Linked DNA regions of Homo sapiens: all the other regions are linked to region 2. Evidence: fine-mapped expression QTL. A gene starts in region 2. Each other region holds a variant in brackets. All regions are shown on one strand. Distances are from middle to middle. Region 1 overlaps VNN2 (vanin 2). Region 2 holds the start of VNN1 (vanin 1). Region 3 holds the start of VNN2 (vanin 2).

What was found.
Region 1: its variant is fine-mapped to the expression of VNN1 in whole blood (INTERVAL, PIP above 0.99).
Region 3: its variant is fine-mapped to the expression of VNN1 in whole blood (INTERVAL, PIP above 0.99).

The regions. Positions count from the first base shown.
Region 1 is chr6:132,734,076-132,744,790 of GRCh38, forward strand. VNN2 (vanin 2) reads right to left here. Exons shown (of 7, transcript NM_004665.6): 7 at 9,795-10,416. The coding sequence ends at 10,225. It also overlaps the pseudogene VNN3P. Among named protein-coding and RNA genes, the nearest start is that of VNN2, 18 kb to the right of the region's middle. The variant C/A (reference allele first, on the strand shown) is at 4,118.
Region 2 is chr6:132,708,673-132,719,387 of GRCh38, forward strand. VNN1 (vanin 1) reads right to left here and starts at 5,383. Exons shown (of 7, transcript NM_004666.3): 1 at 5,154-5,383; 2 at 3,037-3,167. The coding sequence starts at 5,363.
Region 3 is chr6:132,751,237-132,761,951 of GRCh38, forward strand. It overlaps VNN2 (vanin 2), which reads right to left and starts at 6,668. Exons shown (of 7, transcript NM_004665.6): 1 at 6,435-6,668; 2 at 6,180-6,310; 3 at 4,607-4,799; 4 at 1,225-1,513; 5 at 1-282. The coding sequence starts at 6,647. RefSeq lists an enhancer at 9,015-9,204. The variant A/G (reference allele first, on the strand shown) is at 5,246.

The sequences.
Region 1 (10,715 bases), 25 kb after region 2:
ACATGTACTCCCTCAATCTAAGCTAAAAGTTGAAATTACAGGGAAAAAAAAGCATCTACATCCTATGCCACAGATTGACTATTTATCAACACAATTACCAGTCAAATTCAGTGAGTTTACTGTTGGTGTTTTACCAAATCACAACTTTTTGTTTAGAAATTAATGATATGATATTACCTCCAGGGGTCTCTACATGGAATCCAGTTCACTCCAGGGTCTGGTATATCCTCTAGATAGGGGTAAATGCTCTCCCTGGTGAAGATCCAACCATAGATTCCATCTTCTGGGGTCACAATGATATGTGCACCCTGCTCGAAACAAGTGGGGCAAAAAAGTTTGTCATGAATTCCAAATACTCTTTGACCAAACTGCAAGTCTCCTTTACAAGTATAAAAGGGTAATACCTGCTTCGCTGCCAGCTTAACTGCTTTCTCCAAAACATCTATGTTCTTGTTCATCAGGAGCAAAGCTTCTTCTTTTGAAACAGGTGTTTCTGTTCTGTTTGGTAATATCACCGCATGCTCATATACTGCAGCAATAAAAGTGTCCAGTGCACCAACACTCAGAGCAAGGAGGGCAAAAACTGCCACACATTTTGGAAAATGTGATATAATCATAACTAAAATTTAGTGATCTTTGAAAAACAAACTCAGATTCTTACGTTTTGTTTCACTGGAAAAACTTTACATTAAATCCCTCCTGGCAATCAGCTGTTTATATTTTCTTGCACATATATTACACAACACAGCATTGAGAAAGGATGTTGTGCAAGAAAACTGACAGCCAGGACGTAATTGGATTGATTCAAGTGTACAGTGCAGTTGTTGACATTGTTCAGAGTCAAGTCAACACTAAAAGATTGAGCCAACCAGATGAATTCACCCCAGTCCAAAACACACTGGCAGTTGAAGTCTTTTCTAATAAAAAAAAATTTTCCTGGTAAGCCAACATTTCTATTAATAGGGCCAATATTGGAAGGTAGTCATCATAGCAACAATTTGTTGAGCACTCTACTTACATATTTGTATGGCCATTTCTATTTGAAAAGCCCTTGTTCTCCATCCGTCTAAGTTCCAGCTCCCCCTAGAGTCCTCCCAAATCCACTCCAGTCCTAAGTGATATTTCTGAACTCCTATAGCATTTTTTTCTGTGCTGCTGAATGTCTCTCACTCCTTGCTGTTGTCTTGACCTTTAATTTAAATATTATACCAATACTTAATATTATATATGTATGTTTTGTCTTCTTAAAGAGATTAAAAAGAAACTTGCTGTTTTCTTTCAGAACATCCATGTCCAATAAACATCTAGACAGAGATGATGTATCCTGGGATGTGGCCCCTGGAGGGTAAGGGAAGTGTCCTGCTCACTGTTGAACCTCATCACCCCAGCACATGTGTGACAGATGGTGAAAGCTCAATATATGAATGAATGTTGAATGACGGAATCTACTACCTGATGGGCCAGTCTATTCCACCTTTGAACATTGCCAATTTTAAGAACATTCTTGTTATTGAGATGCAATTTACTTTACCTGTCTTCTACAGTTTAAACCCGCTTCCATATGAAGACTAATCAATAATTCAAAAAGTGTTAAGTTCTCCTTTAATTCTTTTATTTTTTAAACATATCATCCTTATAAGTCCCTTAAGGGCAGGGTCACATTATAATTCTCTGCTGCTTCTATAGAATTTTATACTGTGCTAAGCTCTGTAAATGTTTTTTGATTAGTTAAATTCACTTCCCTCGCCCAATTTTGGATTGAATCTCCTTGTTTGAATATCAGTTAATTTAAAATGTAGAATTTTTTTTAAGGTTTAAATCTCTGATTCTAGAACAATTAACACTGCTTCTCCCTCTTGAGATTCTTTCTAAGATCTAAGGAAAATTGTAAGTTATGGAGATTTGTGTCTATTTTGGGTTTGGTTTGTTTCTATAATTCAAAGTCCCTTGGTTTCAATAAACTTTTCCATTATCCAAATATTTCTGCTCCCAGATACCCCACAGTGTTTCCATATGTCCTTATGCCCTGATACCATTTCAGGAAATAAGGACATATGAACATAAATTCAGCCCTAAATTCTGAGTTTATGTCTGACATAAATTGTTTTCATCAGACATCAGACATAAGTTCTTTTCCAAAAAAATTTCTGAGGAGAAGAGGGAAACTATGTAAAACAGATGGATTGATCTGGGATGAGAAGAAAATAATTTTCATATTTCAAGTTGAAATTCTAACTCTTTTCTTGGTTCACCTGACTTTCTGAATAGAATCAAAAGGAAACATATGGGAATTCCCCTTCATTCTCCCAGCCCCTAGTTCCAGGAAATGTACCAGCTTTTTTTGTGTGTTGAAATCAATAGAAACTTGAGTTAAATATTTGATTACCCAATGTTGTTAGTAATGTCTTTGCTTCCTAGGTGTATAAGGCGTGCAGCTATGAGTTATTTGAAACACTGTATTGGTACATAATCCTTATGACAGTCTGGCATTATTGTAGGATTAAGAAGTTTAGAGTCAGAAGTTTTGTATTACAATAAATATAATTCTTCTTTTAAATATGTAAGGGACACATCTTAAAGGAGAGGTGCTGTAATAAAATATCTAAGAGTTTACTGGCTTTCCCCAAATCTTTATTTCTAAACTCATTGTAAAACCTCCTCTCCATTCTCCTTATCAAGTTCCTGACCCCATAAATAAGAATTCTTTCAGGCTCTCCATCAGCCTCTCTGATCCCACTCCTCCCACCCTAACCCTCAATACTGTAATCCATTAGAGTTCCCTTGACCATTGCTGTCATTAATTAAGATACTTCCCATGCATATATTGAATCAAAGCAGACAGTAAGAGCCTTCTTTCTCTTGGTTCCATTTTATATTTTGTGTTCTTAGCTAAAAGTACTCTTCTTATTGTAACATGATCACTGTTGCTCTGATCCTGGAATGATTCTGACCAAATCCTGCCTTTCGAGCTCAAATCCATTGCCTCTCCAGTCTTGTTGCTATTCCCTTCTCTAAACTCTTAATGCACTTATGGCCAGTAGCCACATTGTTGTTCACTGTCTTTCAGTCCCTTACTCTACCCTCTCCCCTGGCCCCAGGTTTTTTTCTACTTCATACCTTCAACTATCTTCTACAAAAGGATAATGACTGTGTCTCTATCTTTAGCTCAAACTTCCGTTCTGAACTTCAGGCCTATTTATCCAACTCAAAAGAACTCCTTTCCACAAGCTCCCACCAAGTATCAACCCACCTGCCAGCCATTTGTACCTGTAAATTCTGCCTCCCCCCATCCTTACTGTAAATGACTCCTCTTGACCCTACTTAAGTCTAGCCCCTATCTTTGAGCACTGGATCCCAAGGACATTGCTCTAGAAGTTCTTCTCTCTTACTTTGTTTATTTTTTTGTTTGTTTGTTTTTGAGACAGGGTCTCACTCTGCCACCCAGGCTGGAGTGTAGTGGTATAATCTTGGCTCACTGCAACCTCCACTTCCCAGGTTCAAAAGATCCTCCTGCCTCAGCCTCCCAAGTATCTGGGATTACAGGCATCTGCCCCCCACACCTGGCTAATTTTTGTATTTTTAGCAGAGATGGAGTTTTATCATGTTGGCCAGGGTGGTCTCAAACTCCTGGCCTCAAGTGATCTGCTCACCTCGGCCTCTCAAAGTGCTGGGATTATAGGCGTGAACCACCAATGCTCGGCCTTTTTTTTTTTTTTTTTGAGATGGAATCTTGCTCCATCACCCAGGCTGGAGTGCAGTGGCCCAATCTTGGCTCACTGCAACCTCCGTCTCCCAGGTTCAAGCAATTCTCCTCCCTCAGCCTCCCGAGTAGCTGGGCTTTCAGGCGCACATCACCATGCCTGGCTGATTTTTGTATTTTCAGTAGAAACAGGGTTTCACCATGTTAGCCAGTCTAGTGTAGAACTCCTGACCTCAAGTGATCCACCCACCTCGGCCTCCCAAAGTGCTGGGATTATAGGCATGAGCCACCGTGCCCAGCCCCATTACTGTTTATCATCAATTTTTCTTTCTCTATTGGATACAATAAAGAAAACACAAATATCCTATTATATATTCTACAACTATCCTGTAACATTTTCTATCTTAAAAAAAAAAG[C/A]CTTTTGATCTGACATCCCCTTCCAATTCCTGCTCCATTTCTCAGCTTTATTTTATAACAAAATTCCTTTCCACGATGGTATGTACTCCTTGCCTCAATTCCTGTCCTCCCAATGGACAGGATTTTACCCCCATGACTTCACTGCCTTGTCCAGTTCCCATTAATCTCCCTATTACTAAGTCTGATGGTCAATTCTCAATGTCATCTTACTCAATGTCTTGGTAGTACTTGACAAAGCTGCCATTATCCCATTCTTAATGTACTTTCTTCTTCACACCCTTTTAGTTTTCCTCTTTCTTTCTTCTTAGTTTTTGTATTTGTTTACTTTGTTTTGTTTCTTTGGACTTTTTCTTCTGGTTTCTACTCATCATCCCTGACTTGGCAACACTGGTGCACCCTGGAGCCCAACCTTTGGAAGTCTTCTGTTCCTATCTACACTCACTTCCTAGGTGATTACATCCATTTCATCTCTTTAAATACCATCTATATATTTAATATTAGTGACTCACAGATTTATATATCTACCTCAAACCTCTCTTGAGAACTCTAGACTCTTATATCTGGCAACAGTCTACTCAAAATCTCCACTTGACTGTATGAAGGCTTATCTGATCAACATGAACAAAACTGAGCTCCTGACCTTCTGCTCCTGATGCTCTTTCACCAGCAGTCTTTCAGATCTCAATTAACGGCTTCTCTCATCTCCCTTTTGTTCCGGCCAAAACCCTTGGAGTCACCCTTACTTCTTTCTGTCTCTCTCACTCTACACACGTTCAAGCAAGTGGTCTTTTACTACACCAACTGTGGTCCAAGCCGTCATTATCACTAGTCTGGATTATTCCCAAACCCTTGCACCTGGTTTTTGTACCACTACTTCTACTTTTGCACAACAACAATCAGAGCCATTCTATCAAAATATAAGACTAATCATATCATTCCTCTGCTCAAAACCTATCAATGGCCTGGGTGCAGTGACTCACACCTGTAATCCCAGCACTTTGGGAAGCCAAGGCGGTCAGATCACCTGAGGTCAGGAGTTTGAGACCAGCCTGACCAACATGGAGAAACCCCGTCTCTACTAAAAATACAAAATTGGCTGAGCACAGTGGCATGCACCTGTAATCCCAGCTACTCAGGAGGCTGAGGCAGGAGAATCACTTGAACCCGGGAGACAGAGGTTGCAGTGAGCCAAGATTGCACCATTGCACTCCAGCCTGGGCAACAAGAGTGAAACTCCATCTCAAAAAACAAACAAACAAATAAACAAACAAAAAAACCTATCAGTGGCATTCGATTTTACTCAGAGTAAAAGGCCAAGTTCTTACAATGCCTAAAAAAACCACTATAAGCTGTCACTTCTAACAATTCCTACTACTTTTCCCATGTTCACTCGGCTCCAGTTGCATTGACTTCTTTGCTGTTCCTCAAGCATGTCCCTGTACTGTCTCCACTACCCTGAGGGGACTGCTGCAACTGGCTCCTTCCTGGCCACTCTGCCTTTAGAACTTCTTTCTCCACTCCATCCTTCAAAAAGCCATCAAATTTATCTAGTTTTTAAACTGTTTAGTCCCTCATGGCTACTTGACTCTAAAACTCTTCAATGTGTCTTTCTCTCAGCTTCTGGATAAAGTCTAGACTTCATTTGTGTTTCAACACTGACTCTGGACTATCTCTCTAGTCTTATTTTTTACATCGTCTGTCCTTATCCTTCCTCCTTGCATCCTCTTCCTCCGTAATACATTAAACACTGCTTGAAGCATACTTCCATGTCTTTGCATGCATGACTAACTCTATTGAGAATGCCCTGATTATCTTATTCTGCTTGTCTGTGACATCCTTCTGGTCTTCCAAGGTAGAATTGATCCATTTCTGGTCCTTGTATTGATCATAGCACTAGCACGCCTCAGCCTCCAAAGTGCTGGGATTACACGCATGAGCCACCATGCCCAGCTAAGTTTTTTTTTTTTTTTATGTGATTGTTAGCTGCATAAATGTCTTCTTTCGAGAAGTGTCTGTTCATGCCCTTTGCCCACTTTTTAATGGGGTTGTTTGTTTTTTTTCTTGTGGAAAAGAAGTTCCTTGTAGATTCTGGATATTGGGCCTTTGTCAGGTGGATAGATTGCAAAATTTTTGTTTAAGTTCCTTGTAGATTCTTGGATATTGAATCTTTGTCAGAAGGATAGATTGCAAAAATTTTCTCCCTTTCTGTAGTTTGTCTGTTCACTCTGATGATAGTTTCATTTGCTGTGCAGAAGCTCTTCAGTTTAATTAGATTCCACTTGTCATTTTTTGCTTTTGTTGCAATTGCTTTTGGTGTTTTTGTCATGAAATCTTTGTTTGTGCCTATGTCCTGAATGATATTGTCTAGATTTTCTTCTAAGGTTTTTATAGTTTTGGGTTTTACATCTAAGTCGTTAATCCATCTTCAGTTAATTTTTGTATAAGGTGTAAGGAAGGGGTCCAGTTTCCATTTTCTGCCTGTGGCTAGCCAGTTTTCCCAGCACCATTTATTAAATAGGGAATACTTTCCCCATTGCTTGTTTTTGTCCAGTTTGTCAAAGATCAGATGGTAGTAGATGTGCAGTATTTTTAAAATTAATTTCTGAAATGCAAAATGAAACAGAACAGGGAAGCAAAGGTTTATAACATAACTGATCAAAGCTTTTAGCAGGGTTGTTCAATCCATATTCAAACAATATAAGATGTCACAGAATTCTTGAAGACAGGTAAATTGAAATTAGTCAGTTCACTCTCATTATTTTTCTCCTTTGACTTAGCTTCACGTGGTCTAGAAATTCTCAAATAAATCGTTGATTTTTTTTTTTTTTTTTGGACACAAGATCTTGCTCTTTTGTCCAGGCTGGAGTGTAGCGGCGTGATCACAGCTCACTGCAGTCTTGACCTCAGAGGCTCAAGTGATCCTCCCACTTCAGCCTCCCGAGTAGCTGAGAACACAGACACACACCACCACACCTGGCTGGCTTTTTGTATTTTTGGTACAGACAGGGTTTTACCATGTTGCTCAGGCTGGTCTTGAACTCCTGAGCTCAAGCAATCCTCCTTCCTCAGCTTCCCAAAGTACCAGGATTACAGGCATGTTTTCTTTCCCATTCCAAGTACTTTCTGTCTTATTTACATACTCAAGAAATCCTCTTCACAGTTGTCCCTGTTTCTTTGTCCAAATGTCTTCTCAGGAATGCTTTCATTGGAAGTAGCTGCGTGTGGCTCAGTGTAAGCATGTGAGTGTGGGTGTGGGTATAATAACCATATTGACCTAAGCAGGCATCCAGCCTCAGATATCTTTTAGAACATTATCACCCATGGACTATCTTGGAATGATGGTCAGAATGGAGTTAGAAATGTAAAAAGAATTTAGGAAAGAGGCCAAAACAGAAAGAATGCTGACAGAAATCACCTGTACAGAGCAATGAGCCAACACTATGAGGACAGGTCAAAATGCAAAGAAAGTAGAAAGTAGGGGCAGTGTAGTTGCAAAGCAGGTTGTGAGCATATCATAGAAATTATGGAAATAGATCATATCAAAGGGGGCAATGTCACAGAGTGGCAAAGGGAGCAAAGAGAATGCATAGACCACTGTCTCAGTACTTAGTGCTTGGGATATAGTAAGTGATCAATGCTTCCTGAATGAATGAAGGAAGGCTAGGTAGTGAGCCCTGAGAGAAGGCTGCTGCTGAGCATGTGACTTTGTAATACAGGGGGCTGTAACCAGGAAGTTGTAAAAGAGCATTTCAGGAAAAAAGCCTAATGAAAGCCAAATAGGAGAAAATAAGAGCTTTGTTTACTATCTCCAGAACCACAAGGGACTCAAGAACTAACATGAAATTTTAGAATGGGATGAGGCCGGGCGCGGTGGCTCACGCCTGTAATTCCAGCACTTTGGGAGGCCGAGGTGGGCGGATCATGAGGTCAGGAGTTCGAGACCATCCTGGCTAACATGGTGAAACCCCGTCTCTACTAAAAATACAAAAATTAGCCAGGCGTGGTGGCGGGCGCCTGTAGTCCCAGCTACTCAGGAGGCTGAGGCAGGAGAATGGCGTGAACCTGGGAGGCGGAGCTTGAAGTGAGCCGAGATCGCACCACTGCACTCCGGCCTGGGCAACAGAGCGAGACTCTATCTCAAAAAATAAATAAATAAATAAGTAAAAATAAAATAAAATGGGATGAAAGATAGTTATCAAAGAAATATAAAGGCCAAATGAAACTATGCTTGGGTTGTTTGATAAAATAAAATGTATGTGAGAAACCACGGTGGAGATGGGTTAAAATGTGGTGCAGGCAATTTTACAGTAGAGCATTAAGTGCTCTTTAATTTCCTTGGCACTTGGTGCTTTCGTTTTTTGTTTTTATTTTTAACAAACTGAGGTACAGCTGAGAGCTCCAAGCTTGAATCAGAACTGTCCCTTTCTGTGAAAGGAGCTCCTTGCTTGTATCTTACTCAAACCAGTTTGTTTAACGTCAGCTGTTGATTTTCAATCAACATCTAAACTTCTGCAAATGAAACGTCATTGCCCAAGAGCCAAAATACATGCTGCAAAACCACTGCACAACATCTAACTTCCTCAAGCAAAACTTGGCAAATTTTAAATGTCCCATACTTTATGAAAAGGAAAAAGAAGCCAGGCATGGTGGCTCATGCCTGTAATCCCAGCACATCGGGAGGCCAAAGTGGGTGGATCACCTGGTCAGGAGTTCGAGACCAGCCTGGCCAACATGGCGAAACTCCATCTCTACTAAAAATACAAAAATTAGCCGGGCATGGTGGTGGGTGCCTGTAATTCCAGCTACTTGGGAGGTTGAGGCAGGAGAAGCACTTGAACCCAGGAGGCGGAGGTTGCAATGAGCTGAACTCCCACCATTGCACTCCAGCTTGGGTGACAGAGTGAGACTCTGTCTCAAAAAAAAAAAAAGAAAAAGAAAAAGAAAAAAGAGCATAAAACTTTGATGATTATATGATTTGGACTATATACACAAATGCACGTTCATTACAGCTTTAAAATTGCCATCTTTGATGTCCCAATGCTGAACATAGGGAATATGTATGCTCTTCTCAAAATTAAATACAAAGTGTGGCTTAACTTCCATATTTCTTCTCTTAATACTAACCACGAGATTATAAAAGGAATCTTACTTTTCTAGTGTATTTTAGTAGAATTTTAAAATCAAATCCATAAGTAGGTTTATGACAATATGTAAAAACAAAAGATAAATGCTTCAATTGTGTTTTTTTATGTAAAAGTATTGAATTTAAAAATACTTTGGGAGATAAAAATCAGAAAATAAATCTGAAAATTCAAAATCAGTTCTTTAATTTTAAGAGTATCTGAATTAAATGATCAATAACAAATATACTAGTTTACTTCAAGTAGCATGGAATATGTGTATTTTGTAAAAAGTCAACCAAATGCTGAAAATAGTGTAACTTTTAACTGTCATGGTCTTTGTGTTATGAGATTTCTGCCTGTTAAATTACGCCATAGCCTTAAGGTGGGACAGCTGGGGCTATGAGTGCCCTGGGTCAGGTCTCCTTTGATATGAACTTGGAATAGCCATCAATTCTTCTAGCACTCAAAACTACGTTCACTGTAGAAATAAATGTCGACATTGCCTTTTGATTGGAAAGTAAATCTCCTGATAAACATTAGCACAGAAAACTAGGTGAATTCAAATAGTCTTTAATGTCAAAGGGAATTCAGTCATAAACCTCTAAATTCCCATCATTACTATTCTCTTCAAGGGCACAGCTATGTTTGCAATGGCCCTGAAACTCCTCACTCCCATACATACAAGTCCCCCATACACACAAAGTCTCAAGCAAATGAGGCTGGAGCTGGAGTTTGATCTTCATTTATCTGACCCAAACACCCAGGCTCTTTCCATTGTTCCACACTGCAACATTTCAGAGTAGCCAAAAAAATGGACAACATTATCATAATACTTAAAAAATAATTATTGATGAGAAAAAATATTTAGGACTCACTGGTCTATACTACTGAAATAGCCCTTCAAAGTTTCTTAGTAAACTTGGGAAGCCGATAAACACATTCAGCCAAGCATATGATGCAGAAGCTGAGTGATAAAGAGACGCCCTATAACATTACAATATTTTGCAAAGCTATGATCATTAATAATATGAATATTAGCAGGTAAGTTATTGCTGAATTGCTGGTCCCACATGAGCTGTAAAGTGAGTCCTTTGTGTACCACCTCCCAAAGAGTGACACTGTTAGTATAGGCCCAGATGATCCATTCTTGTTTACCAAACGCCCATCTTTCAGCACCTAAAGAAAAGGTGGGAAAAGTACAGTCAGCTTTCTTAACATAGAAGTTAAAAGCAAATTAATCATTTTGAAACCATCCTAGATATAATGTATAGTCAAATCATTTCTGATTTAGGAGGATGCAGCAAGTAGGCCAGGCAGGGGACAGCCATTTACTACATAATGAAGACTAGAGCAATTCAAGAGGGCCCAAGATTTTAGTTTCAACAATCAAATGTAACCATTAATGGAAAGTCAAAATCAGCAGCAGCAATTCATTGAGTTCGATTATGTGCAAGACAATCAGGAACCAGAGAGTT
Region 2 (10,715 bases):
AACTTTATTCGGAATCTGTCCACTTCTCAATACCTAAACTTCTACCATTTCTTGGTCTCAGACCCATCATCTCTATGCCATAATGATCACAACAGCTTTTGAACTGCCCTCTGCTTCTTTGGTGACCTATACCCTGGAGTCTATTCTCAACATTGCGCTCCTCCTGCCCTTCTGCCTCCATTTCCTACTTTTCTCCTCTTCTGTCACATCACTGTAACCACACTAACCCTTTTTCTGTTCCATAGGTTAGACACATACTCTGACCACAGGATCTTGGAATTTAGAATTCCTTCAGCCTGGAATGCACTTTTTTCAGATACTCACATGATCTATTGCCTCATTTCTTTCAGGTCTTTGCTGAAATCTCACTGTGATGCCCTCAGACGACCTTTTAAAATTTCAGCCCCACGCTTGCCACCCTATTCACCTTCCCCACTTTATTTTTTCCATAACATTTACTTCCACCTCATATCATAGATAGGTAGACAGATGAAAGATACCTATATAAAGATAGGTAGATAGATAATAGATAGATGATAGATAGATGATAGATAGATAGATAATTATCTTTTTAAAACATTTATTACCTCCCCACACTAGAATATAAATTTCAAGGGGACAGGAATTTTTAATCTGTTTTGTTCACTTCATTGCCCAGAACAATGTTTAGACATAATAGGTACTCAAAAAAAATTTGCAGAGTTAATAAATTAAGGCAGCTGGGCGTGATGACTCATACCTGTAATCCCAGCACTTTGGGAGGCCGAGCAGGTGGATCACTTGAGGCCAGGAGTTCAAGACCAGCCTGGCCAACATGGTGAAACCCATCTCTACTGAAAATACAAAAAACTAGCTGGGTGTTGTGGCTCACACTTGTCATCTTCGGGAGGCTGAGGCACAAGAATTGCTTGGACCTGGGGGATAGAGGTTGCAGTGAGCTGAGATCACGCCACTGCACTCCAGCTTGGGCGACACAGAGTCTCTCTCTCAAAAAAAAAAAAAAGAGAGAGAGAGACAGAGAGAATTAAGGCAAGACATTCAGACATCATTAGTTGATGGAAAACATAAATGGGCAACCGTGTTCCTTGAAATGAAGTGAATGGGACATCCTTGTGGGGATGTTCAGGAGGCCCTTGGAGATGAGGTTCTAGGGAAAGGCCATTCAGAAATAAGTCAATTCAATTCATAGTGGAAGTGATAATAGAGTGCTTGCCTTTTAGAAACTGAAGCACTGACATATGACATGATTAAATAAGAAATAATTATGGTACAATTAAATAAGAATAGAGTAAATGATTATGATAAATAACACTGGAATTTATCAAAATCCACCTTGTCAAAATCAAGGTGTCTCTGTAAGTAGTTTTTGTGGGTTTGTTTGTTTGTTTGTTTTTGAGACAGAGTCTAGCTCTGTTACCCAGGCTGGAGTGCAGTGTCACTCTCTTGGCTCACTGCAACCTCTGCCTCCCAGGTTCAAGCAGTTCTCCCTGCCTCAGCCTTCCAAGTAGCTGGGATTATAGGTGCCCACCACCACGCCCCACTAATTTTTGTATTTTTAGTAGAGATGGGGTTTTGCCAAATTGGCCAGGCTGGTCTCAAACTCCTGACCTCAGGTGATCCTCCTGCCTCGGCCTCCCAAAGTGTTGGAATTACAGGCATGAGTCACCACACCCAGCCAGTTTCTGTGGGATTTTTAATTTTAGTATTATTATTATTATACTTTAAGTTCTGAGATACATGTGCAGAACATGCAGGCTTGTTACATAGGTATACACGTGCCATGGTGGTTTGCTGCACCCACCAACCCATCATCTACATTAGGTATTTCTCCTAATGCCATCCCTCCCTTAGCCCCCGACTCCCCGACAGGCCCCGGTGTGTGATGTTCCCCTCCTTGTGTCCATGTATTCTCGTTGTTCAACTCCCACTTATGAGCGAGAACATGCAGTGTTTTGTTTTCTGTTCCTGTGTTAGTTTGCTGAGAATGATGGTTTCCAGCTTTATCCATGTCCCTGCAAAGGACATGAACTTATCCTTTTTTACAGCTGTGTAGTGTTCTGTGGTATATATGTGCCACATTTTCTTTATCCAGTCTACCATTGATGGGTATTTGGGTTGGTTCCAAGTCTTTGCTATTGTGAACAGTGCTGCAATAAACATATGCATGCATGTGTCTTTATAGTAAAATGATTTATGATCCTTTGGTATATACCCAGTAATGGGATTGGTGGGTCAAATGGTATTTCTGGTTCTAGATCCTTGAGGAATCACCACACTGTCTTCCACAATGGTTGAACTAATTTATACTCCCACCAACAGTGTAAAAGAGTTCCCCTTTCTCCACATCCTCTCCAGCATCTGTTGTTTCCTGACTTTTTAATGATCACCATTCTAACTGGCGTTGTGCGGTTTTGAGAATAGTTCCAAAAGAGGAATTCCTAAAATAATTTTAGCCATGTGTATTCAGAAAGAAGTATGTGAATCGACATGATTTTCTTAGGTGTATAAGATATTGGTTTCCTTACATTAAAATTAATAGTGCTGCTTTCACCACACTTAATATCTCTGTAGCCGAGACCTGACTTAAACCACTTAAAATCCTGCCATATCACCTCTTAGATTACAATCAGCTTACACTTTAAGGACTTTACTACATTAACCTCATCAGCTATCTTAGCAATGAGAAAGGAAAACTATTAATCTTAAACTGATGTGACTCTCTTTTGCCATTTACTCATATAGTTTTCAAATCACAGACCTACACAGGGAAATATTTTTCTGTTCACTGGTGAGGAGTCAGAGACCAGAGATGTTCACACTGAATGTGATGATTTCTAAGCTACTTTCTAGCTCTGACTTCTGTGACTTCATAATTCATATTTGCTCTCCCAGTAAATATACCCATAGTAGATGAAAAATAAGCTATACTGAAACTTAAGAATTGATCATGGATCTATGCAATGATCATCAACAAAGTTTTCCCAGGTAAATCAAGTTGATGTTTACTAGTGAATTTTTCACAAGTTGTTTCTTTACCTGTTACGATTATTACAGGGGATCCAGTTTACTTCAGGGTCTGGGATGTCCTCCAAATATGGGTAGAGAGAGTCCCTGTTGAAGTTCCAGCCATAAATAGCATCTTCTGGAGTCACAATAATATGCGCACCCTGTTAAAAATGCAACTTAATCCAAAGGGGGGCCTGCAAGAGGAGCTGAGGAGCTGAGTGGCTGAGTAACAACTATTTGGGCTTCCCCCACACCCCTTAAATCTTATTTTGTTTTCTATATTTTTATAATTTATTTTCTTTTCCAAAGCATTTTAATTTCCTTTTTTTTCAGTGCACTGTCACTTCTTTTTCTTTTTCTTTTCTTTTCTTTATTTCTAATTTTAGATTCAAAGGGTACAAATGCAGGTTTGTTGCATGGATATGTTACATAATGGTGAGGTTTGGGCTTCTAGTCAAGCATTTTTTTTTCTCTCTTTTTTTTTTTTTTCAGATGGAGTTTCGCTCTGCTGCCCAGGCTGGAGTGCAATGGCTAGATCTCGGCTTACCACAATCTCCACCTCCCGGGTTCAAGCGATTCTCCCGCCTCAGCCTCATAAGTAGCTAGGATCACAGGCATCTGCCACCACGCCTGGCTAATTTTTGTATTTTTAGTAGAGATGGGGTTTCTCCATATTGGTCAGGATGGTCTTGAACTCCCAACCTCAGGTGATCCGCCTGCTTCAGCCTCCCAAAGTGTTGGAATTACAGACATGAGCCACCGCACCTGGCTTAGTCAAGCATTTTAATTTTCTAATCCTGCCATTGTTGTTTCCTATGGCAGTCGTTAACTATAAACCTAGCTTATCCTGGAACCAAGCCTCTCCTTGAACTTTCGCTGATGACTGTGCCTGTGTCAAGACTGATTAATAACTTAAATATTCTGTTTATTTCCTCCTCTGCCCTAGCTTTCCCCTGCAAACATGATTCCTGCTTCTCAGAAAAAGAGGAGCCACAAACTGGTTACTTGAACTGTCCCATGCCTACAAGTACTGCCTGAGCTAACCTGGGCACCTTCCAATTAGAGAGTCACCTTAAAAAGCTCTGTGACCTTCAAGGAAATAGTTGGACTAAGGATGAAAAAGAACATCAGAACTCCTGATAACCTTTTAAATATTAGTATATATAAGAATATAGGGCAGTCACGGTAGCTCATGCCTGTAATCCCAGCACTTTGGGAGCCCAAGGCAGGTGGATCACCTGAGGTCAGGAGTTCAAGTACAGCGTGGGCAACATGGCAAAATCCCATCTCTACAAAAAATACAAAACTTAGCTGGGCACGGTGGCATGCATCTGTGGTCCCAGCTACTCTGGAGACTGTAGTGGGAGAATCACCTGAGCCCGGGAAGTCAAGGCTGCAGTGAGACGTGATCACACCACTATACTCCATCCTGGGTGACAGAGTGAGACCTTAACTCAACAACACAAAAGAATATATATTTATAGATATATGTAATACACATTTATCCATGACTTTTATCACACTTCATGTATTCCTGGTCTACACCTAATCGATCAATAGCTTTTAAAATAATATTTGTGTAAACCACAATTTATACTGTATGATTAACTTCAAACTGAAACCTTCACTAAACTTAAGGACTCACAATGCATTACATATACTTTTATCTTGTAATTAGAATGAAGTGTGAAGTATATAATGCATGCTGGCAAGGAATTGAAAACTTAAATTTGTTTTCAGATTATAAATTTATTCGAAAACCTGCAAAGCCTTAATAGCACATGAGTACATGAAGGCCACTAATACTCTGAAAATAGCACCTAGTCCCTGACCCATTTATCCTCCATCCTCCATCTGTACCAGAAAAGGGGAACAAAGATGTTGAATTTATGGCCAGTTCCTCAAAGGTCTGCTGCTTCTTGATAATGAGCAAATTGTTCTTTTCTTAACTTTGTTCTTACTTTTAGGGAAGTCCTTGCTCTAATTTTGAGAGGAAAGTAGAATTCTAACTGTAAAATAAAGGTTCTTGGCTACTCTGATACATATATCATCTAAAAGTGTAACTGACCCTGACAGTGGCCCTGTCTCCTAGGACCCCCTCCTTTCTCATAGAATCCAGTACACTGGAGAGATGGTAGAGATGGTACCTGATCTGCTGCTGATGTGATCGCTCCTTCCAAAATGTCCAGATTCCGATTCATTAATGCCAAAGCCTCCTCACGAGACACTGGTGTTAGGGTGGCATTGGGCAATATCGCTGCATGCTCATAAACAGCTGCAGTGAAAGTGTCCTGGCAGCTGGCTCTTGAGACATAGAAAAGCAAAATTGCCACGTAAGCTGGCAACTGAGTAGTCATGCTGAAGTCCAATGAGTGCTGAAAAACAGAGCATGTCCTGGTATTTATAGAAAGAAGACACGTGGTGTCCAGAACTTAGTACCTTAAACTACGGAAGTTAATTAAGAAAACGCTATGATTTCATAGCATTGTTACATAACAAAAGACCCTACCTTATTGCAGTAATTTGTGAAGATTAACTCAAGAACTCTATGTACATTAGTTCGCTAGGGCTGCCTAACAAAATACAATAAACTGGGTGGTGTAAAAAATAAAAAATTTATTGCTTTGCAGTTCTGGAGGGTGGGAGTCCCAGATGAAGGTGTCAGCAGAGTTGGTTCCTCCTGAGGGCGGTGAAGGAAAGATGTGTTCCAGGCCTCTCTCCTTGACCCATAGATGGCTGCCTTCTCCCTGTGTCTCTTCATATGCTATTCTCCCCATGTGTGTGCCTGTATCCAAGTTTTCCCTTTTTGTGAGGACACCACTCTAATCTTTAACACAGGGAAAGGGAAAATCCCAGCTCTAGCTTTTTTTGTCATCGTTGTTGTTTGTTTATTGTTGTTGTTGTTTGAGATGGAGTTTCACTCTTGTCACCCAGGCTAGAGTGCAGTGGCGAAATCTCGGCTCACTGCAACCTCCGCCTCTCGGGTTCATGTGATTCTCCTGCCTCAGCCTCCCAAGTAGCTGGGATTACAGGCGCCCGCCACCACGCCAGGCTAATTTTTTGTATTTTTAGTAGAGATAGGGTTTCGCCGTGTTGGGCAGGCTGGTCTCAAATTGCTGACCTCAGGTGATCCACCTGCTTTGTTTTTATGCCAAATAAGGGCAGAAGAAAAAAGCCAACTGAAGGTCATAAACCCAGGGGTACAGGCTCACTGAAAGACTGAGACTCAATCATAGGACCAATTCGATTTAGTGCCCACTGTACTCCAGTATAACTTCATCTTAACTAATTAGATCTGAAATGACCCCTTTTCCAAAAAAGTTACATTCTAAGATACTGACAGTTAGGACTTCAACATATAAATTTTTGGAATTCATATATTTTGGAATGTCAACACAAGACATTCAAATAATTTTAAAACTTTATTATTATTTTCATGTGAATATTTCAGCTCTACACTTTGATTTACTTTATTTTCCTCAAAATGGGGAAGCCAGGACAAAGAGGAATACAAAAGAGTTACTCATTTTCTATTGCTATATAACAAATTATCCCCAAATTCAGCAGCTTCAAAAAGCAAAAATACATCATCTCCCACTTTCTCTGGGTCAGGAATCCAGGGGCAGTTTAGCTGGTGCCTCTGGCCCAAGGTCTCTTTCACAAGGCTGCAGTCAAGCAGCTGCCAGGGCTAGCTATATCAAGGCTTGACTCCAGGAGGATTCACTTCCGAGCTCCAAGCTCCCTCATGTGGCTGACGGCAGGGATCAAGACCTCATTGGTTGTTGCCCAGAGACATGAGTTCCTAGTGATGCAAACCTCACCATAGGGCAGCCCGCATTATGGTATCTGGATTCCCTTAGAGCCAGACAGCAAGTGAACCCACTGGAGATGGAAGCCACGGATGCTTCGTAATGTAATTGGGGAAGCAACACCTCATCGCTTTTGTTGTATTCTATCCAATAAAGCATTAGGAACCATCTTTGAAGCTGCTTATCACAGAGGCAACAGAGGTGTATAAAGAATCAGAGCAAAAAAAAGAAAAAATGAGCTGGGGAGCGAGATCCAGAGAGAGGAGAGGGAAATTATATAAAATAGAAAAACTGTTCATAGATTTTGATATTGAGTAAGCTGGCAAATTTTGTTTCAGTTGTGCATTAAGTATAATATTTACAGAATTAGTGTTTATGTTTTTCCATTTTATTTTTAGATCTATTTGTCTTTGAATGGTATTTTTATAGTTCAATCTGCAAACAGGCATATCTAATTTTTTACTTTAGTAACTATAATGCATTTATTCTGCAATTGCCAAGGTAACCCAGGGGTTGTGGTTGGCTGGTTCTCCTGAGTTTCCGGTAAACACCAGCTTCTCTAACTGCTTGCTGACCTCTTAGGGCCTTTCCATGCCCAGGTGGGTGGGAATACCACATATTTCACAAAAAGATGTCATTATTATGTAACAATTTGTAAAAGGAAGCACTGAAATAAAAGTTAAAACTGAGATGAGTTGGCAAGAGGTTAAAAAATTACTTCTTGACCTTCTTAGATTAAAAATATTAAACCTCCCGTGGAGTTTCTAGTCCAACTCATAAAGAGCTTGGCAGTCATTTTTCCCATGCTCACACCAAGAAAAAAGCTAAACAAATGAAAATCGACAACTTTTCTAGGATGCATCAGAGAATTGAGATCACAGGATAAACTGCGGTCCTCAGAACTGCAGAGATAGGCAGATACAGAGGTTAAGAGTGTACTGCGAGCAGAGTCCTCTGCGGCTGGCGCCAGTACCGTGGGTTCACTTGAACTGTAATTGACGAATTGGTGGAGGCTCAGGGTGGACAACCTTGAGAGTTCTGGTCTGTTCTTCTTAACAAAAGCCTGCCCTCAAAGTAAAGTATTTTACCAGAGCCTAACCTACCTAGGGGAAGGAAAAATGCCAACCCCAGCCACTCTAATCTTTAACTTGGGGAAAGGGAAAATCTCATCTCTAGCTTGTTTTTATGCCAACTAATGGCAGAAGAAAAAAGCCAAGTGAAGTTCATAAACCCAGGGGTACAGGCTCACTAAAAGACTGAGACTAAATCATAGGACCAATAACCTTGTCCCTCCTCCAGCATGTCACTGCCACATGAATCTACCCTTTCTGGCCTACTTAGCATGTACTAGCTGAGAGCAAATCTTCAGATGAAATAATGCAGTTCGGCCAGGCGCGGTGGCTCATGCCTATAATCCCAGCACTTTGTGAGGCCGAGACGGGAGGATCACCAAAGGTCAGGAGTTTGAGATGAGCCTGACCAACATGGAGAAACCCTGTCTCTACTAAAAATACAAAAATTAGCTGGGCATGGAAGGGAGCAGTGTGGGGGGCGGGGGCGCCTATAATCCAGATACTCGGGAGGCTGAAGCAGGAAAATTGCTTGAACCCGGGAGGCGGAGGTTGCCTCGAGCCGAGATTGCGCCATTGCACTCCAGCTTGGTGATAGAGTGAGACTCCGTCTCAAAAAAAAGAAAGAAAGAAAGAAAGAAATAGAAATAGAAACAGTGCAGTTCTTGCAGTAGAGTATCATCAGCAGGACATGGAACTGGGAGGCACCAGCAGCCTCTACTACAACTCCTAGGCTGGTTCTCTGGATCCTTAACCCTACTGCTACAGCCAGCCAAGGTCCCCAAATGCAGCCCTTCTGCTCACACAAAGTAGAAACTGGGAGAATTGTCTCCAAGGAAATGACTTTGAGTGTAGACAAAAGCCCTAATTGATACCTCCAGACTCCTCCAACCAAACTTGCATAGATGGAGCAGATTGCCTTTTGCAAGGAAAACATGACATCGCACTGTCCAGAATAGGGCAAGACCCACAGTATTCTGGATTTTGCTAGCACAGCAGTGATCACCCCACCCCAGGCAGCAGGTCCCCAGAGGAACTCAGAAGCAAGTCCTGCCCAGCTTACGCAGAGAGAACCAGAAACAAGGGAAAAGGAGGGAAGAGCAAGGACTGAGTGGAGTGGGCACTGCCTCTTGCACTTCACCTGGTGAACTCTGAAAAGCCATGTGCACAGCATGTAAAAGTGTGTCCATATACTTGTGTCTGATAAAAGATTGATTGGCAGTCGGCCTCTGCATTGCTACTCAAAATATACGCCCATATTTTAATATTTAGTGGCTACAACACAATGTCAATTCTTTTGTTGACATTAATCTGGTTTTAGGAGAAACAATCCATTTTTCCTCTGGTCTCATAGCACAACAACTAACACAAAAGACTGGTTACTCCCAAGTAGGTGGAGATTTCTCCCCACTAGAAAGCAAGCAATTGACTCTGCATCAGACATCAGCTGGCTATCTTCCAGTTCAATCCAAATACTATTTATCCAAAGATAGCATCAGATCCCACATGTTAAGGGCTCAGTCCCACAAAACCGCCCCCTCCTTCCCACCAGTAACAAGTCTGGGCTTCCAGATCTTCCGACCAAATGGCTCTGGGTTGGGGTTTCCATGACCCCTTTTTTTTTTAGTTCAATTAGTTTGCTAGAGTGGCTCACAGAACTCAGGGAAACACTTACCTTTAGTGGCTTATTGTAAAGGATATTACAAAGGATACAAATGAAGAGGTGCATAGAGCAAGGTATGGGGGAAGGACTGGAGAGCCTTCCACGCACCCCTAGGTGTGCCACCCTCCAGGAACCCTCCACGTGTTCAGCTGTAAGGAAACTCTCCGAACCCTGTCCTTTTGGGTTTTTATGGAAGCTTCATTACATAGTCACGATTGACAACCATGTAGAAATGCGATTGGACAAAAAGGTTATGATCCCATACTAACAGTTTGAGTGGGGAAACCCAGTAAAGCTTGTCTGTTCAGGTTTGTCTTGACATCTCTTTATAGCATTTCTTCCTCTAGGGTATGGGGTGGGACCCTCTCTGAAATGAGGGTCTTTTGAGCCACAATCAGATTATAGTCCTGCCTTAGGTAGGTAAAGGGAGGACAGGGTAAGGTCAGAGAGGGAGATTCTGTTTCATGAGGCCTGCTCCTGAGGCCTAAAACCCCCTAATGTTAAAACAAACAAACAAACAAAAAAAAAACCCTAACAAAGGATATGGGAGTTATAAGCCAGGAACTGTAATATCACAAGTTGCTAATGTTACAATAATACATATCTCTGCATAGGACTTAATAAAACTATTTTTGCATTGTTAATGTAGCCTGTAAACATGATGATGTGGCTTGAACTTGCTCTCATGAAAGAAAAAATTTTTTTGTTTACCAGTGAGTTATACTCTGCTGTATCAGAAATATTAATTAAAGCCATAAGAGTGGCTTCACTATCCATAGAAAGATTTTAGATAAGGAAGATACAGCTGTGAGAGCTGAGTCTAGCAGAGTGCATCATTTATATCAATGACAAACAAAATAAATGTGGTTGGAGGAGGGAGAAGAGACAAAAAGGTCAACGAAAATAAAAAGCGAAAGGCATTAAAGTGTGGGGGGTAAAATTACTCCAAGAAGTACAGGCTTAGTAAGAGCTGAGAACTGACCATGAGATTTGACTTTTTTTTTTTTAGACAAGGTCTCACTCTATTGCCCAGGCTGGAGGGCAGTGGTACAATCTTGGCTCACTGCAGCCTCTATCTCCTGGGCTCAAGTAATCCTCCAACTCCTGAGCTCAAGTGATCCTCCCACCCCAGCCTCTCCAGTAGCTGGGATCACACTAGCATACTCG
Region 3 (10,715 bases), 43 kb after region 2:
TTAAATGACAGCAAAGCTCCTTTTGACAGACTGTAAGGTTTCCTGCATTTTCAAAAAGTTCTGTGAAGTTGAACCCATCCCTGGAAATAAATCCCCTGAAAGTGTTTTTCTGTACTGGAAATGGTTTGATGGTGGTGGCGTAGGCATTCCAATTAACAGCTGTTGGGTAGGCAAGCGAGGATAGGGGATGTGAATCCACCTCTGAAAGGAGAAGTTTTCCCAACTCTGTCTTCATGTCATAATGATACACTTTGGGACCATTTGGTGCATAAATACCACTTCCTGTGAATGAAAGACAAGTCTTCTAAAAACAACACCACACACAAAAAAACCAAAACTGCCAATTTCCCCATCAGAATTGGGCATGTGATCACGCCACCATATTAGTCACGATGAGAGAGGATACATGCTTCTAATTGCACTGAACACCTAACTACTTCTATTCTCTAATGGAAGAGATTAAAATAAACATTCCTTGGTCTCATTTCAATTAAACCTTAAATATAATAGCATTATTTATTAGCATTATGGAAAATTAAACCAACTACAAAAATCTTTGTAGTCAGGAGTTCCTGAAAGGTGGGGAAAGGGAATAAAAATTCTCCCCTATTCCTCATTGTGGTGGTTTTCAAATATATCCAAAAATTCCTTAAAATTCTTCTTTCTGGTGGGAGGATCTAATTCCTTTCCCCTTGAAGAGGGGCTGGACTTAGTGACTCACTTCCAATGAATAGAACATGGCAGAAGTGATGGTGGGTAACTAGTCATAAATAGCAATGTGGCTTCTTTCCTTTTCTCTCTTGTCCCCTCTCATTAATTGCTCTAGAGGAAGACAGCAGCCATGTCACGAGGATATGCCATGCAGCCATAGGAGGAGACAAAGGGCAAGATATAGAGGCTTCCATGGCCACTGAGGAAAGTAGTAGCTGGGTAGCATTTGGCAAATTACTTGCACTCTCTGTATGTCAATTTTCTCATCTGCAAAATTGGGATGACACTATCTATCTCATATAATTATTGTAATAATTAAATGAATAATACACATAAAGGTCTTAGTATAACCATAGCTTATAATCAAGTGCTAGCTTTTTTTTTCTATTGTGAAACTATGACAAACACAGTAAGAATTTCCAATAAGCAAAAAATTAATACAAGTCATAACTGAGGCATTCATTTCTCTGCACTTAAAAATATAAGATGAAACCTAACCTGGTCATGAATTACCTGTCATATTTAGGCTGACATGATGTGTGTTGGCCACAAGAAGATTAACTCCCATTCCCATTGCCCAAGCTGAATGGAATTCAATAGCTGTCAAAAGGGGCAAAACGTTCATCCAAGCTGTGGGAAACAGTATGGTGTCCACATGGAAATCTTTCACCAGGGTAACACCAGGATCATAGAAGAATATATCAAAGCACGTGAAAATGCCAAACCTTCCAAATGCGGTGTTGAAAGTCACCAACTCCGGCTTTTCAGGGACATTAAACTGAGGCTCAGAGTACAGGTGGTACTACAACAAATGGATAGGAGAAAACCAGTAAAACCTTATTTGTTGAAGAAATGACTCATAAAAACCCTCTAAGTTGGTAACAGATTTGGCTATGGTCAACTGCAGGGAATCTCCTAGGAAGCGGATAAATCTGGCAATTGGAAGTAAATTTCTAAGGAAAATGTGGAGGAATATGTAACATACGTCCATAGCATCTCTCATCTCCTCTCTCTCCCTTCTCTCTCTTTCCCTCTCTCTCAGTTAAGAGCCAAATACCCCCCCATAAACCCCAAAGTCCGTAAGCTTTTTTTAAATTTAATTTAATTTTATTTTTCTGAGACGGAGCCTCGCTCTATCACCCAGGCTGGAGTGCAGTGGCATGATTTCGGCTCACTGCAATCTCCACCTCCTGAGTTCAAGCGAGTAGCTGGGATTACAGGCACGTGCCACTATGCCCGGCTAATTTTTTCGTATTTTTAGTAGAGTCGGGGTTTCACCGTGTCAGCCAGGATGATCTCAATCTCCTGACCTCATGATCCACCCACCTGGGCCTCCCAAAGTGCTGGGATTACAGGAATGAACCACAGCACCTGGCCCTATAAGCTTCTTAAAAGTTAAAAAACATGCATTATTCTTCTTTGAATCCTTGGTGCCTAGAAACGTAATATTAATAGATGCATAATAAATACCTGTAAGTCAGGTGAGAGATGTCATCTCTCTCTTTAGTGTCCCATCCAAAGTAATCTCAGTGACTCTTGCCCACCTTTCAAAATTACCATAGAAATGTATTTAATTTCCCGATTCCTTCTAGGTAAACTAAAAAAAAACTTAGTCTAATATAATAAATGGAATCAACAGTTAATAAAATGGTCTGCAGTGTAGAAAAAATATCTAAAAAATAGAAAAGAAATTGGGCTTTACTACTATTTTAAGAATTGACAGGCCAGGCAAGGTGGCTCATGCCTGTAATCCAAGCACTTTGGGAGGCCAAGGCAGGCAGATAACTTGAGGCCAGGAGCTCAAGACCAGCCTGGCCAACATGGAGAAACCCCATCTCTACTAAAAAATCCAAAAATTAGCCGGGTGTGGTGGTATGCACCTGTAATCCCAGCTACTCAGGAGGCTGAGGCAGGAGAATGGGTTGAACCTGGGAGTCAGAGGTTGCAGTGAGCTGAGATCGTGCCATTGCACTCCAGCCGGGATGACAGAGCCAGACTCTGCCTAAAAAAAAAAAAAAAAAAAAAAAAAAAGGAATTGATCGACAAAGGTATTCTCATTAGGTTCACATATGTCAGAGGTCATGGGTTACAAACGGTCCCTGAGGTACCCTCAGGGAAGAGTGAGAGCCTTTCAACTTAGACAGGGTGACTGCAGGTTCCTTGCTAGTTTGTCCACATTCAGTGCACTGTGCCATCCTGCATATTTACAGAATGGCAGAATAGCTTCAAATGATTACTGCAAATAAACTGCATTGAAAGATAATACAAATAATGCAAACAATCTCCCAAGCAAGAAAATGGAAGCACTGACCTTTCTATTTTTACTATGAGACACATTTTAAGAAGAAAGTGAAATGCAGTGATATATATGAAAAGAAGCTGTCAAAATCCACAAAATTATGAAGAAAGCATTTTGAAATTGTTGCACTTTATAAATACACACACAAAAATACATATATTGAGGACTTATGTTAACGATTTTTTCCAATAGGGGTCCATGATCGAAATCATTTGAAAACCATTGGTTTAACATCCCTCCTCTTAATTAATATTTATATTTTAACTGAGACTGCCAGGAGATAATTTCTCCACTCCAAAGATTCTGAGGCTACAGTTTAAGATGCTTACAAAATATCTGGGTGTGGAGAAGGGACATTCATACTGCCTGTACATCACACATATCCATTTAAAAGGCCAGGCTTCTTTCTCTACCTAGTTTAGTATAAAATTATGACTTAAAGGTTATTTGATTCCTTTTTTCAATTCAGAATTTAAAGTAAACATTTTATGGTTTGATCTTAAATCTATAAGATGGTAATTAAATTAGCTGGTGTAGAAAATAAGGTATTTTGTGGTTTGATAGCAAATTAACTTATGCAAAGCTGATTCATACAATTTTGAAACATCTTTCTACCATTTCAATATTAAATAGTATTTAGATTATGGCTGTGCTCAGTGGCTCATGCCTCTAATCTCAGCATTTTGGGAGGCCAAGGTGGGAGGACTGCTTGAGGTGAAGAGTTCAAAGACAGCCTGGGCAATGTAGTGAGACTCTGTTTCCAAAAAAATATTTAAAAATTAGCATGGTGGCACATGCCTACAGTCTCAGCTACTTGGGAGGCTGAGGCAGGAGGATCACTAGAGCCCAGGAGTTTGAGGTTAACAGTGAGCCATGATGGCTCCACTGCACTCCAGCCTGGGCAACAGTGAGACCCTGTCTCTAAAAAAATATAAAATTATTGAAACAGTGCCCAGATTATAGTCACCTTAGTATCTTTTTTTATGTTAAAATTATTTGTTTTATATGTGCAAAAAGTTTATCTCAATCCTGGACCATCATGCTACTTTTTTTTTTTTTTAACAGTTCTCTGCCTACATGTTTTTCTGAGTAGTTTTTTACAACGTGTCATTTTCTTTTTTCTTTTTCTTTTTTTTCTTTTTTTTTTTTTGAGAGTCTCCCTCTGTCACCCAGGCTGGAGTGCAGTGACACAATCTCGGCTCACTGCAGCCTCCACCTCCTGGGTTCAAGCAAGTCTCCTGCTTCAGCTCCCACATAGCTGGGACTACAGGCATGTGCCATCACGCCCCGCTAATTTTTGTATTTTTTAGTAGAGACGGGGTTTCACAATGTTGGCCAGACTGGTCTCAAATTCCTGGCCTCAAGTGATCCACCTGCCTCAGCCTCCCAAAGTGCTGGGCTTACAGGCATAAGCCTCCACGCCCAGCCAAAAGTGTCATTTTCTTTATTGCCCACTTTCAAAAAACAAAAAACAAAACAAAACAAAAAAACCCTCTAGTAATATTGTATCATATAGGGAATGAAATTCAAACTCCTAAACCCAGCATTGACCACTCACAACACGCTCCATTTTACACGTCCGTCACTCTCTCTTACCTTATGGTAACGTGCCACGAGTTTTCCTTCTGTATTATACACCACATTGGTATTGTATTGAAAGTAGCCATTAGGAGGACATGTGGAGTCACGGGAATTACATGGCTTTTTGTCCCCCAAATTTGCCAAGACATAGATAGAGTTGTCCTTGGCCAGGCAGCTGAGTCTTGCTTGTACTGGTGTGTGACCAAATCTAAACCAAATTATAATTAAGAAATTTCAATTTTAAAAAAATATTTTAGTCACTTTATATGGAAACGATAGCAACTGTAACCACTTAAGTGGAACTTAAGTTAATACAAAAACTATGCCTAAAAATATCATACTTTAAAAGCCACAGATGATTATACACTTGATGAATGCTTCCCACACGGTATCTATTGCTCCAGAAATTCATTATTCGGTCTCCTGCCTCATCAAGGGTCTCCTCTCTACTGAAACATCCCATCAGCAATGAAATATCCTCTAGTACCTCCCATCTTTAAAAAATAAAATTAAAACCTCTTTTGACCTTTCCAAACATGCCCTTCCAAATATTGCTTTAATCCTCATCTCTCTCTTAAAGCAAAACTCCTCAAAAGATCAGTCCCTCTTGCTGTTGCCAGTTCCTCCTCTCCCATTCCCTTTCAGAGCACTCCA[A/G]CTTGTATCTCTATCACCCAAACTCTTACTAATGCCAGCAGTGACCCCCACATTTTACCTGATCTCATCTTAACTTTTCAACAGCAGTTGGCACAGTTAATTACACCTCCTTCTGGAAACACCTCACTTCTCTATTGGACCCACCCTCTCATTTTCCTATTTATTGGTTGCTCTTCTTCGACTCTTCTGCTGATTCCTCGTTTTCTTCCGAGTCTAAACACTAGAATTTCCTAGTGCTCAAGCCTTATACCTAAACTCTTCTCTAACTCACTCCACAGGTGAACTCATCATGGTGTTTAACACCATCTATATGCTGACATTTGATTTTCTATCTCCAGATATAATTTTGTCTTTTCATGCCAGACTTGTCCATGCAACTGCCACGTTGACACCTCCAGGATGACAGTAGGACCCAGATTTTTAATATATATTAGAAGGTTTCTAGATAACCTTTTCCCAGGAAAATTAGATTTGTGAGCCTAGGAAAATGCAGTTTCAAAGCATAAGGTCTTATGATTCACTTGAAAATACATGGTGAAGTCTTTCTGCCTAAGAAGCAACTCTGGAATGGAGAGACTCTATAACATTGAAAGGGTGTCCCTTCAGCAGAGGCTTTGGAATGTATTCCTAACACAATCCACTGTCTACTTCAGAAATTAAGTTACTACTTGTATCTATGAGATCTCTTCCCTTAGTTTTTCTTGCAGGAATACCCTATTTACACATTTTCTCAAAATTTAATAAAGATTTTCAATCACAAAAGATTGTTAAATAGTATCTAAGTACAATTTTTTAAAATCTGACAAATGTTGAGATAAATATAACCATAACATATACCACATATATGGTAATTCAAGAGCAATCATTTTGCTTTGGTGAACGTGCGCATTTTAGAGAGTTACTTTTGCACAAAAGACTAAGATAGTTAAAATACCTGTGGGGGTCTTGACACGGAATCCAGTTCACCTGAGGGTCTGGGATATCCTCCAGATAAGGGAAAACAGTTTCCCTGGTAAATTTCCATCCATAAAGTGCATCTTCTGGAGTCACAATGATTCGAGCACCCTGTTCAAAACAAGCAAAATAAAAATGATTTTTCCATGTACAACACAGACAATTCAGCTCTCTCGTCTTCCACCAGCTCCCATGCCCCTCGTGTACATTATGATTAACAGAAATAAGAGAATACCTGCTCAGCTGCCTGCTTGATCGCTGTCTCCAGAATGTCTATATTCTCGTTCATGAGATTCAAGGCATCCTCCTGAGAAACTGGTGTTTCTGTTTTATTTGGCAAAATGACAGCATGTTCATACACTGCAGCTATAAAACTGTCCTGAGTACCAACCTGCAGGGTTATTAGGGCAAAAACTGCCACAGAGATTGGAAAAGAGGAAGTGACCATGGCCAAGGTTTAGTGATTTCTGAAAGCAAAAATAACATTCATGTAGTATTTACAGAGGGGAGAATGTTTGCATAACATGTGGCTGCCAGTTACTGGCCTTTTACTTTATCATCATTTTTCTTCTTCTTCTTCTTCTTCTTCTTCTTCTTCTTCTTCTTTTTTTTTTTTTTTTTTTTTTTTGAGGCGGAGTTTGCTCTGTCACCCAGGCTGGAATGCAGTGGCGCAAGCTCAGCTCACTACAACTTCCACCTCCCAGGTTCAAGCGATTGTCCTTCTTCAGTCTCTGAAACAGCTAGGACTACAGGTGCGCGCCACCACGTCCAGCTAATTTTTGTATTTTTAGTAGAGATGGGGTTTCACAATATTGGCCAGGCTGGTCTCAAACTCCTGATCTTGTGATCCATCCACCTCAGCCTCTCAAAGTGCTGGGATTACAGGCGTGAGCCACTGCACTTGGCCTACTTTATAATCTTAAGAACGCAATATATCTGACCACTTTTAAAGAAAGAAAAGTTGCAGTCCATTTAAGACAATCAGAAAGTATTACAGGGATTGAACAGCATGTACTATTAGTACTAAGATTTAATATTGAATTTCCAAAAGACACCCGAATTCAAATATAGAACAATTCCAGCTTTTGTTAATAGAAACTCATAACTAACTCTCGTGTAAAAAAATCACATCCCAACAAATATCTCATTTATTAAATTTAAAAATTGACAACAATTTTTTTGGTTCTGTTGAGTCACTTACATTGTGTTTATTTTTAGACGGGGGGGAAAATATTAAATACTTACTACTAAGAAAATGTAACACAGGACAATATTGATAACAAAATTTACCCAAATCTACACTCTGACTTACTTATTGCTATTAAGGACTGAAAACATGTGCTCCAGAAAAGCAGGATTTTGTGTCTGGTTTGTTCACTGCTGTATAGTTAGTGCCTACAGCAACAATACCCCGAGGCACCTAGGCCAGAGGAGGAATCTCAGCTCAGGGGCCCCAGGCCTCAGGATACTCCGCTTCTTTCCTTCTTTCTCTCTTTCACCCTTCCCTCCCCATCCTCCCCCTACTTCTCCTTCTCCTCCTACTCCTTCTCCTCCTTCTTTTTCCTCCCTCCCCACCCCCTGCTTTGGAGGAAGATGCCAGGGAAGGGGAAGAGTCCAGGATTGGTGATAAAGATCATCTGTGTTGTAATAAGGAGAAGATGTAACTTACATTTTTGTTAGCAGCAAATAACAACAATGAGTTTAAAAACAATGCTAACAGGCCAGGTGCAGTGGCTCATGCCTGTAATCCTAGCACTTTGGGAGGCCGAGGCAGGCAGATCACCTGAGGTCAGGAGTTCAAGACCAGCCTGGCCAACATAGTGGAACCCCCCATCTCTACCAAAAACACAAAAAGTAGCTGGTCGTGGTGGTGGGCGCCTGTAATCCCAGCTACTCGGGAGGCTGAGGCAGGAGAATCGCTGGAACCCAGGAGGCAGAGGCTGCAGTGAGCTGAGATCACACCATTGCGCTCCAGGCTGGGCGACAGAGCGAAACTCCGTCTCAAAAAAAAAAAAAAAAAAAAAAACAATAATAACAACAAATACAGGATGTGATCTCAGATGCCTTCTTAGGACATTCATATTCTCCCTTCCCCAGGCCCAATCCTGCCAAATAAAGGATTTGTTTTATTTTTATCCAGCCCTTTGGTAAAAGTCACGGAAATGCTTTTAGACAGCATAGAAGAGTAGGTACGATTAAACAAAGTTTATTCTGTGCTTTCCTTCTTACTGAGATAAATGTTTTGTTAAGAATGGGGCCTAGGGGCTATAAATAAGATCTGCTCATATTTTCTGCTTTGAATAGAAGTTTCTATTAAAGGAATAACTTTTCTTATCTCTATAGAGCAGAAAACTAAAAATAATTCAGGAAAAATGGTCAAGCCCTTTTGTGGAAAATGTAAAGGGATAGATATTTTTATGAATTTTTAGCAGATTGTATAATAGACTGTTAGTATATAACCATACTATCTAGTGTATAATTAGTAAATTAGCATAGGTGATTGGTATATAATAGATTATGAGTGCTGTTAGAGTTTAGAAATCATGTAACCCAAATGCCCACTTATTACAGGATAGGAATCTGAGGCATAGAGAGCTAGAGCGACAGAGCAGGATGTTCGCTTCTCATTCCTGATTCCAGAGTCTTTCCTTTATACCTAAAACAGCACATGTGTCTGTGCTCTCTTTTAATGTCTGCAACTGAGTGTCTGAACACTCGTGTCTTTTGGGGTTTTTTTGTTTTTTGTTTTTTTGTTTTGAGACAGAGTCTTGCTCTATTGCTCAGGCTGGAGTGCAGTGGTATGATCATGGCTCACTTCAGCCTCCACCTCCCAGGCTCAAGTGATCCTTCCACCTCAGCCTCGCTAGTAGCTGGAACACCAGGTACGCACCAACATGTCAGGCTAATTTTTGTTATTTTTTGTAGAGAGGAAGTTTCACCATGTTGCCCAGGCTTGTTTCAAACTCCCGAGCTCAAGCAATCCACCCACCTTGGCTTCTGAAAGTGCTGAGATTATAGGTGTCAGTCACTGCAGCCAGTCATTCATGTCTTTTAAAGAACCCAATTCAAAATGATCACCTTAAGAAGACCATAGGCAAATTTGCTAAGTGCTAATGAAATTTCTGATGCAGTTGATGCCTAATAAAAACAATTAAGCTCTTCCATCTCCATAAGTACAATTTGGGCCATGACCTACCTTCATTGATCTAGTATCACCAATTAGTAATACTTAATTAACTCTTTTGCTTTTAAGTAGTCAGGTAAGCTGATGAGGAGGAGTTAACAGTTTTATAATTTTGGCAGTAGAAGTGGGGACAATCATATCTGTTATTGTGTTCCCAAATCTGGATGTTTTTCTCTGTCCTTGGCTGTAAAAGATAGAAATGATGTTGATCAGAGTTTTGGATTTTTTGTTTGGCTAACAGGGAAAGGGAAAATCACTTCTGATATAAAATCAAGATGACTAAATTCCCTCCTTTGTTTTTTTATTTGAAGCATCTAAAAATTGTCTCATTGAAACTGAGAATTTGAGTAACAAAGGTAATTGCAAAAAAGAATTAGAAGTTAGTAAATGAAGGAGCAATTTAAATATAGGAAAATCCCTGAGATGTGAAGAAAATATTTGCTGTAGAGGTCATTGATATTGTTTTAAATCTTCAGAAGTAAAAAACCAAATTCAGGACATACAGTTTCAATAGTTGACTTTTCATAAAGATGATTGATCAGGTAAAGATTAAAATTTTTAGTTTAACTGAATTATAAAATAAAGTAAGGTTATTTTGCCACAGGGAACATTGATTAATTGTAATTCGTTGCTAAAAGAGCCTACTTCCTAATTTGCCATTTTGGGATTAATGAACTTAGCTAAAGGGGTAAAAAGTTAAAATCAATTAAAAATTATTTGGTCAAAGAGTCACCATAAAAAAAAAAAAAACAGTATTGGGGTGGGCGCAGTGACTCATGGTTGTAATCCCTGCACTTTGGGAGGCCGAGGCGGGCGAATTATTTGAGGTCAGGAGTTCGAGCCCAGCCTGGCCGACATAGTGAAAGCCAGTCTCTACTAAAAATACAAAAACTAGCTGGGCATGGTGGCAGACGCCTGTAATCCCAGCTACTCAGGAGGCTGAGGCGGGAGAATTGCTTGAACCCAGGAGGAGGAGGTTGCAGTGAGCCGAGATAGCACCATTGCACTCCAGCCTGCGTGACAGAGTGAGACTCTGTCTCAAAAATAAAAAACAAGCAAATAAACGAAAAACAGTAATAGCTCAAATATTTGTTTCTAATTGTGAATCTGATCATCTGTTAGAATAATGTTCAATTGGACTAGGTTTTAGGTCTTTAATTTTAAAAACCTCATTTTTTTCCCACTTTCTCAAGAGTAAGCATAGGGGTGTAGTTTCTGCTTTGCACCACTTCTTTGGACCTCTATTTCTCATCTAAAAGTTTAGGTAATCATACCTGCTCTATCTCCTAAAGATATGTGAAAGTCCTCTGTAAGACTACAACGCAGATGACA